Linked DNA regions of Homo sapiens: regions 2 and 3 are each linked to region 1. Evidence: fine-mapped expression QTL. A gene starts in region 1. Each other region holds a variant in brackets. All regions are shown on one strand. Distances are from middle to middle.

Region 1 (2,754 bases):
GGCCGGGTTCTGATTTTGGTGCAGTGCAGACTTTCAGCTTAACGAGACAAATTGGTATTCTGTGCCAGCCCAGGGATGGAGCGGCAGCTCGGGACGCTCGGGCGGGCAGCTCAGAGGTGGGCAGGAGGTGGGGGCAGGGGAAAGAGGCAGCTTCTGCCTGGAACTGCCTCCCGGGGCCGCCTCCAGCCCTGCCCCTGTCCCCCATGCACCCCTCCACCCTGACAGGTGCCCTGAGACACTGGTCCTGAAGGTCCTTCCACCTTCAGTGCCCTCCCTCCAAGCAGGGTACCCCTCCTGGAGGGGGCAGGGCAGTGGAGGCCAAGGCTTCAGAATTCTAGAGAAGCCCCTCGCCCCCGGTGACCTCCTAACCTTGCTCTTAGGGCTCTCCTCCCACCCATCTGGAGTTGAAAGAGCAGCAAGTCTGGCAGAGATTAGGCAGGAAGAGGTGAGCAGCTGGCTAGGGGCTTCCAACCCTACCGACTCCTCACCCGGGGTCCCTGGGTTCCCGTGGAAGTGTCAGTCAGCCCACAGTCGGCCTGCAACTCATCATAGATGTCCTGAAGATTAGGTGGGTGTACAGACATGCAGACACCCCTGCTGGTGGGCACCTTCTTGAGGCAGGCCCTTCTGCCAAGCCAGCCCCCACCACCACACCCCCCCGAGGGCAGGTGGGGTCGCACACAGGCAGGGCGGGTCGCAGGGGTAGCGCTTCAGGGCAGCAGAGAGCTGCTGCGGGCTCAGCTCCACTGGCCCTGGAAACACAGATGTGTTTAAAATGTGTTGAGTCGACTTCTCCCCATTTGCGACCTTTGCCCCTTTGCCCCCCAGGTCTGGGGGTGCCTTGACTGCAAAGAGGGGGGCCAGAGCCCCTGACCAAATAAGTCCCCCAGAAAGCAAGGGACGACTTGGGGCCATTTGAGCAAAATCCTCCCCTCTCTGCTCCCGTTCTCCCCACCACCACTCTCAGGACCCCCTTCCCTCCAGCACAGCCCAGCCCTACCCTCTCCGTGCCCTTGACATTCCCTCCTGCTTCTGGGGAGCGGGCATATTCCTGGGACTCTGCCAGCTTCGGTTCCTCATGATCCCACGGGAGGAATTAAAACCGCAAACAACAGCGTGGTGGTTCGGTCCACACACCCCCCCCGCCCCCCACTCTCCTCCCCCGTGCCCCCTCCAGAACCGGCCCTCCCTGTGTCCCTCCCTCCCTCCCTCCTCCCGCCCCCATCCCCCAGCCTCCGGCAGCGGCAGGGGCGGCCTCTGCCTCCCCCGAGATTGCATTTTGCCGGCGAGATGCTCTCCTAGAACCGGCGCCGGCGCCTCCGCCCCCCGCCCCCCACCCGCTCGGGCAGGATGGTACAGTCTGCAGAGGGGCCCGGGCACGCTGGCTGGGCTCAGCCGCGGCACCAGCTGCCGCACCGCGATTACGGGGCTGCCCGCCGGGAAACCGTGCAGGATTGGTGGTGATTTTCATAGCCAAGTAAGTACCGGCATCCCCCAGCATGAGAAAATAAAAAATAAAAAGCGCCCCACTCCACTCTCCCCTTCCTCCCTCACCCATTTTATTTTGTTTCATTTCATTTGATTTTTCTCAGTGCTGATGGTGGTGGCGGTGGCAGCGTGGAGGGGGGGTGGGAGCAGGGCTTGTTTATCTGGCAGCAGCCGAGGCTGCACTGGGAGCCGCCGCTGAGGGAGACACTAGTGTGAGGGTCCGCGTGTTGTGGGGGACGGCTGGATGCTGGGGACTAGGACAGGGGGGCCTCGGACAAGCGGATGCCCAGGGTCTCAGGTAGATTCCGGCAGCCTCTGGACTGCAAATGCCCCCTAAGGATGTTATGCAAGGGCCAGCAAGCTGGTGGCAGGGGACAAGGTTCTCTTCTCTCTGAGCCGGTCCCAGGGAGACCAAGAGGACTGGAGGGTGCCCGTTGCCCACCCTGGTCAGAGTCCCAGGAAAGAGGCAGGAGGAGGCCCCTGTGAAGCGTCCCTTTGGTGGGGTGGGCAGCTGTGTGCTGGGACTCATTGGGTCAGGCCAGCCGGGTCATGTGGTGGCAGGGACGTGTTCCTGGGTCCCCTCCATGGCCAGGAGGGTGGCAGGAACGGGTGGCCAGGCCATTTTGCAGCAGTCATGCTGGGTGGTGGAGTCGGCACCCTCTGCCCAGAAGCCCACTTCCTAGGCCAGCCTCAGTGGTCTCCAGCTGAGGGATAGGGCACCTGAGGCTCCTCCCTGCCCCCTGCAGGGTCAGGATGGGAAAATGCAGCAGGGGGCCTCAGGACTCCCTGAGGGTGGGTTGCGGACAGCAGCAACCCCTTTCTAGCCAAGTAGCTATTCCACACCACGGCTGTCCTCTGCTCACCCAGGTTGGGGGTTGGGGGTTGGGGGGGTGCTCTGGACTGGCCTGCCCCAATCAGGCAAGGGCCCTGGGGGTCTCGGGCCCTCCATGCAGAGGCCCAGCCTGGCTCGACCTTCAGAAGGGTAAGTGAGCAGGCAAGCCCGACCAGCCGGCAGAGGGTCTTAGTGCGACGCTGCATGCCCTGAGCCCAGCGTGGAAGGGGCTCCCTCCTCTCCTGCATTGCTCTCCGAATCGCTGGGAGGAGGCAGAGCTGACGTTTGGGGTATTTCCAGGATCAGCGGGCGCCATCCGGAGAAATTCTCCTTTGACGTGTGCAGTAGGAGGGGGCTTGGAGCGCAGGCCTTGGGGGCCTCCGCCTGTTAACTTCGTTGAAGGAGCAGTGGCAAAGAAGGGGCTGCAGCTCTGG
Region 2 (2,754 bases), 110 kb after region 1:
TGCTTGTATTCTGAAGGGCTCTGTGGGCAGTTAGAGGAGGTGGGGGCTACAGAGTGCTGCCCAAGGGACTGTGGACAGTGAGGTCCCACAAGGCCCTATCAGGGCCTCCATCCCCAAGAGGTTCCCACCTCTGCCCCTGTGGTCGTCCTTTGAGAGGTTTAGCCCACTGCGCTTTGACTTGGATGTCTGTTGCTCTGCCATTAATTGCTTCTGCCATGGTGTTAAGCATTGCCCTCTGCAGGGGACTCGTGGAGCTGAAGGGGAACGGTCTAGGGAATGCCCCAGTCCTTTGGAGTCTTCCCCTGGCAGGAGGGCCTGGGAGAGGACAGGGCACAGCCCAGTGAGGTGTGGCAGGAGGGGGCACAGCTGGGATGAATGTGACCCTCTGCAAAACATAAAGATGATTTATTAGGGACATTGGTATTCCCAATTATAAATGTAATACATACCCACCCTGGAAAGTTCAAAATAGTACAAAAAATTGTGCTGGAGTTGCAGCTCCAAACCAGGCTGTGCGGGGGAGGCCCAGAGGACACTCCCACTCAGACACTGCCTTCAAGGGGCTCATGGTCAGGTTGAGGAGCCAGGCCTGGAAGCACCCCCAGAGGAGACTTCAGGTGATTCAGAGGAGACAGATGAAGTCCCCTAGTGGGAGTCAGGAGGGCTACCCAAGGAGAAGGGCATTCATCCTGTGGAGGAGGTTGTGAGCAAGAGGTGAGGGAAAGGCATTCAGGTGATCACTGTGAGCAAAGGCCAGGGAGGTAGACACCAAGGCCCAGTGAACTGTGCACACTCCAAAGGCAGAGGCCACGAGACAGGACTCAGTGTCCAGGGCCAAGAAGGCAGAGGTCTCATCCAGGGGACACTGACTGAGTGGTTTGGACCTCAGGGAGCCCTCCAAACCCTCGAAGAAGGGATTGGAACTGGAGGGAGACAGGTAAGAGCAGAGGCTTGGGGATACCGGAGGACAGAGGGAGGGAGGACTGGGGATTGTAGATGCCCCGTCTCCCCTGCCCTGGCTATTGCTCAGCTCTGGAGGACACCCTGGGGCATCTCCAGG[T/G]CTGGGCGGGGAGCGCACTATGCCTAAGCCCCTCCCTGACGTCCTCCTGCCACCTCCCTGCCTCCGGATGTGGGTGTAGAGCTGCCAGCTCCCTGCTGCGATGGGAGTGATTAGATTAGAAGGTGATTTGGGAGTCTGATTATCGTGGGTGGAAATTGGCCCCCTGCATCTTTTTCCATCCTGTCTTGGGTTGGGAGGTGGGGAGCAGCCTCTTGGTTGCCACCTAAGCCAGAGAACCAATGCCTTCATTTCCAGCGAACCTTTCTACTCAGAGCAGAATGTGTCTCAGACCAGAATGTGAGGGCCTTGCCCCTGGAGGCTAAGTGGAAGGTAACAAAGACAACAGGCTCAGGGACAGCAGAGAGTTCAAGTCCAGGCTCTGCCCCTCACCTGCAGAGTGACTCGGCAGTCCACCCCTCCACTCTGAGCCTCAGTTTCCTCCAGTTTGAGGACTAGATGAGATCATTGAGCGTGGAGGGCAGCATGTGCCCTGCACACAGTAGGTGTTCTACAGAGGTCAGCTTGGGTGGCTGTTACTGCTTTCTGTGCCCTATGAATGCAGCGTAGTGTTCCTTCCTCTCCTTTGAAGAGTCTCCAGTGATACCCGCCATGAGACCCCAGTTTCTTATCTGTCTAATGCTGATATGTAACAGCCCCTCCTCCTAGCACCCTAACAAGCCGAGCTGGTGCCCACGGAGGCATCTTGTCAGCAAGTTATTATAATGAACAAGGCCCTGTTACTGGCCCTCAGCAGGGTGACAGAGCAGGGTGGGGTGCTCCAGGGTCTGCCTGTGATGAGAAGCCACCAGGCCTGGGCTGCTCAGCCTAGAGCCAATGTCTGAGCTCATTCTGTGGTCCCCACTGTGCCCTGCCAAGGGGGAAAAAAAGCACTGTCCTTCTGTCCTGGGAATGGCCAAAGAGCTTGCCATCTGAGAATCTGGGTTCCGCACACCCCCTCTGTGAGCCTTCATGACTTGGTTTCTGCATCTGTGCAGGGAGAGGCTGGCATTTACGTGCCTGAAAGGAATCACTGGAGAGTGTCTGTCTCTCTGTAAAGCACTTTGAGATCCTGAGACCCCAGAGACCAAGAGGCTAGATTGTTGCAAGCGCACACACACACACACACACACACACAAAAGCATGCACGCACACACACACAGGCACACACACACACAACATCGGGATATCACTCAGATCCTACAAGGAAAGGGACAAGGTGGGTGATACCACTTAAAAAGTGAAAACAGATACCTTGCTTAAGGCAAGCTCTTTAGGTCTGACCCAGAACCCCTCAACCCTTATTTTAGATACAATTCTAATGAGTTTCCTGACATAGACTTCAAATCTGAGGCAAACCAAAACACAGTGAGAGATAAGTTATGCTGAAAACAGGAAGAAGTGGCACCTAGTCTCGAGGGGACAGAAAAGAGAACTCTGAAAAGCAGAAGTGAGTTCCAGAAGCAAGGCATGGCATGTCGGAGAGTCACTGTCATGGCTGTCAAGGCCTCTGTGACACTGTCCAGCCAGGCCAGGGTGGAATTCTTACTCCCCCATCTGAGAAGGTAGTGTGTCCTGCATCATATACAGCTTTCTACCCAGAGTAGCAAAAAAATAAAAACAGGAAAAAAAAATGTGTGCCTGGAGAGCCAACCTTCCAGCATCCAGATTCTTCCAGCACCAATCAAAGGACAAAG
Region 3 (2,754 bases), 47 kb before region 1:
CCAGAAAACAAACGTGGGTCTGTGTACCGCTCCTGCTCATTATAATCTCTTGCTTCTTTTCACAAAACCCCAGGGGCCCCTGGGATTTGGGAGCTGGGGGATGTCACTCAAGGATGCCTATTGAGTGCTAAACAATGGCCCCCTCATGAGGTCATAGGGCCGCTTAGCAACCACCCAGGCCCTTAGTAACGGGCCCAGAAGTGTTGATATTTACCCAACAGAAACTTTGGATTATCTCGATAACACCCAGTTCCTTCCAGAGAGCTGCAGGCACTAAAAGCAAGCTCCACCCACTCCGAGCTGCTGCTCTGGCTCTTCCAAGAGCAGGCCTATGGAGGGGCAGGGAGTCCTGGGTTTCCCCCCCAGCTCTGCAATCCTCTGAGGGCCTCAGTTTCCCCCACAACATGGGGATCAGACTAAATAAGTACTAAATATTTAAGTAGTATGACTGTATGTCCCTGCTGGCCCAGAACAGTTCCATTTTATCAAGACTATTAAAAGAGGCGTTTTCATTCTCAAGAGTTGGAACATCAACCTTCTGGTCACCCACCTCTAAAAGGCCACTTCCAGCCCTCAATCCCATTGTTCTTCCCCTCCACCCTCTTTCCCAGTCTGAATTAATCCTGAATAGTTTCACCTAGCTTTTTCAAGGTCCCTCTCTGTGTCAGGCATGGAACAGGGCGCTGAGGAAACTGAGGCAAACCAGACGTGGTCCCTGCTTTCAGGAGCTTCCAGTCCGGGAAAGAACACCGCTTAAACACTCTGCAGAAATCTAGGTCTGAATCTAGAACCTTGCAATTCTCAGACTTATTTGTGTTGTCTTCACTAAGCTATTTTAGTAAATAATAATACTCCATAGAATTCCGGTGGCATTTTGCAGTTTCTAAAGCATTTCTGTTATGTTCCCTCATTTAACCCTGACATCATCTGAAGGTGTGATTTTAATATATTCCCATTGCACAGATGGGGAACTGGAGGCTGGAGGCCATAGAGGACAGAGCAGTTGGATGCCCTTGAGGAGCAATTCAATCTCTGCCTCCTTGCCTTCGAAATGGAGATGTTAGCTCCCACTTCATAGAACTGTTATGGAAAGTAAATGAGACAGCACATAGAAAGTCCTTTGGAAAGTGACAGCTGCCTAAAATGAGTGTTTCTGCCCTGAGCTGTCTGTGGCCTCAGCAGTTGCACTTCCTGGATGTTCTCCAGTTCACCTGCTTCTCACATGCCCACAGACACCCATTTGTAAATTTCCTGACCCATTTTTGAGCACAGGGAACACATCTTGGTTGGAACCCCAGCTCTGCCTCAGGGCAGCACTGTGGCCTCGGGCAACTTCTAGCCTCAGTTTCTTCATTTGTAAGAGGAGATAAGAACAAGTCATCCTGAGGATGGAAGGAAGCAAATAACATAAAAGCAGTGCTGAGGGGAGCCAACCCAGCACATAGCTGTTGCTCACAAATGGGAGGTTCTGGATTGCCTTTCTGATGTTAAGTATGTGAGAAGACTTTGAA[C/A]GTGTTTGTGTGAGAGGGAGCTATGGAGGGCAGCACCCACAAGATGGGATTTTTCCCTCACCCCAGGAGCCAGGCCAGCACTCACTTTGGGCGGAAGGCAGGACGCTGCCACCTTCTCTAAGGTTGGCTTCCAGCCACGTTGCAGCAAGGGGGTTCGGCTGACGAAAGCTGTTCCCTCTGTGCCCCACTCACCTTGCAGGAGGAGAAGGGCCCCCTCTTCCCCTTTTCTTTACAGAGTAGCTCCACAGGGGCAAATCTGTCAGATGCCATGGTGATGCCTATGTGGTTTCCCGCCCACGCCCCTCGCCAGTGCTATGAGTCACCAACCGGCACCGAGGCGGCGGCCGTGGGAAGGGTGTTCCCTCTCCGGCTGCAGAAATGCTGCCACAGGCGAGCTCTAGAAAGCCAAAACTGGGCCCCAGGATAGGCACAGTGAGGTTCCTTATGCAACTTTTGACATTGTTCGGAATCAGTGTTACAGAAAGCCCAAACCCAGCCCCATGATAGGCATGGCTACATTTCTTATGCAACCTTGGCATTGTTCAAAAGCAGCGTTAATGTTCGCAACTTCCATTTGCTGAGGGCCCTAGGGAGCTGGCCCAGCCTAGACTTCATGTCCTGCTTCCCACAGCCCAGGAAGAAGCTAGAGTCCCCTTTTCAACAGATGGGGAAAGTGAGACATGCTTGGGGTCACATGGCCAGGACATTCCCAGATGTGACTCCCCTTTACTGGCAGACCAAGGTAGCTTTTGGAATTGGAGACAGACCAAAACAGGTAAATATGATTGATACATTGTGTTCTTGTTTGAATGAAACATAATTGTGAGCAATTGTGTACAGTTGCCGGGCTGAAGGTTTGAACTCTTGATTTCTTAAAAGGAAAGAAAAATCTATCTCTAAATCTGAGTTAGCCTAGAATAGAAATATGTTTACAGCAAAATATTTCTTTATACAAAACTTTGCATTGCCAAAGCAGGGCTGTGGAATATGCATGCGTGTTAGTGGGGTGTTACAGAGGAAGGAACTGCATCAGGGATTGTATCTTGCAAGTAGCACTGACAGTGATCACAGATCCGCATCTGAGACGTTGAGCTTGGCCGCTTTGGCCCCATCTGTGCCCATGGTGGGCTTGATAATCGGCACGTCCATTCACCACTGCCTTGCCAGGTCCTAAAGCCATACTACCTGCTTCACTGCAGGCTGCGTCTCTCATCTTTCCCCCACTGAATTCACTGATCACTCC

The links. PIP is the estimated chance that this variant, and not a neighbour inherited with it, causes the effect. A credible set is the group of variants that fine-mapping cannot tell apart.
Region 2: its variant is the best candidate, but not a certain one, in a credible set for the expression of ATP2B2 in testis (GTEx, PIP 0.82).
Region 3: its variant is the best candidate, but not a certain one, in a credible set for the expression of ATP2B2 in sun-exposed skin (GTEx, PIP 0.51).

Annotation. Positions count from the first base shown.
Region 1 is chr3:10,504,188-10,506,941 of GRCh38, reverse strand. It overlaps ATP2B2 (ATPase plasma membrane Ca2+ transporting 2), which reads left to right and starts at 1,356. Exons shown (of 23, transcript NM_001001331.4): 1 at 1,356-1,477. RefSeq lists enhancers at 1,367-2,033, 2,034-2,700.
Region 2 is chr3:10,389,940-10,392,693 of GRCh38, reverse strand. The region is part of intron 5 of ATP2B2 (ATPase plasma membrane Ca2+ transporting 2); the gene reads left to right. Among named protein-coding and RNA genes, the nearest start is that of MIR885, 3.2 kb to the left of the region's middle. RefSeq lists a silencer at 2,403-2,603. The variant T/G (reference allele first, on the strand shown) is at 1,061.
Region 3 is chr3:10,551,252-10,554,005 of GRCh38, reverse strand. It overlaps a transcript of ATP2B2 not described here. Among named protein-coding and RNA genes, the nearest start is that of ATP2B2-IT1, 18 kb to the left of the region's middle. RefSeq lists a silencer at 27-321. The variant C/A (reference allele first, on the strand shown) is at 1,512.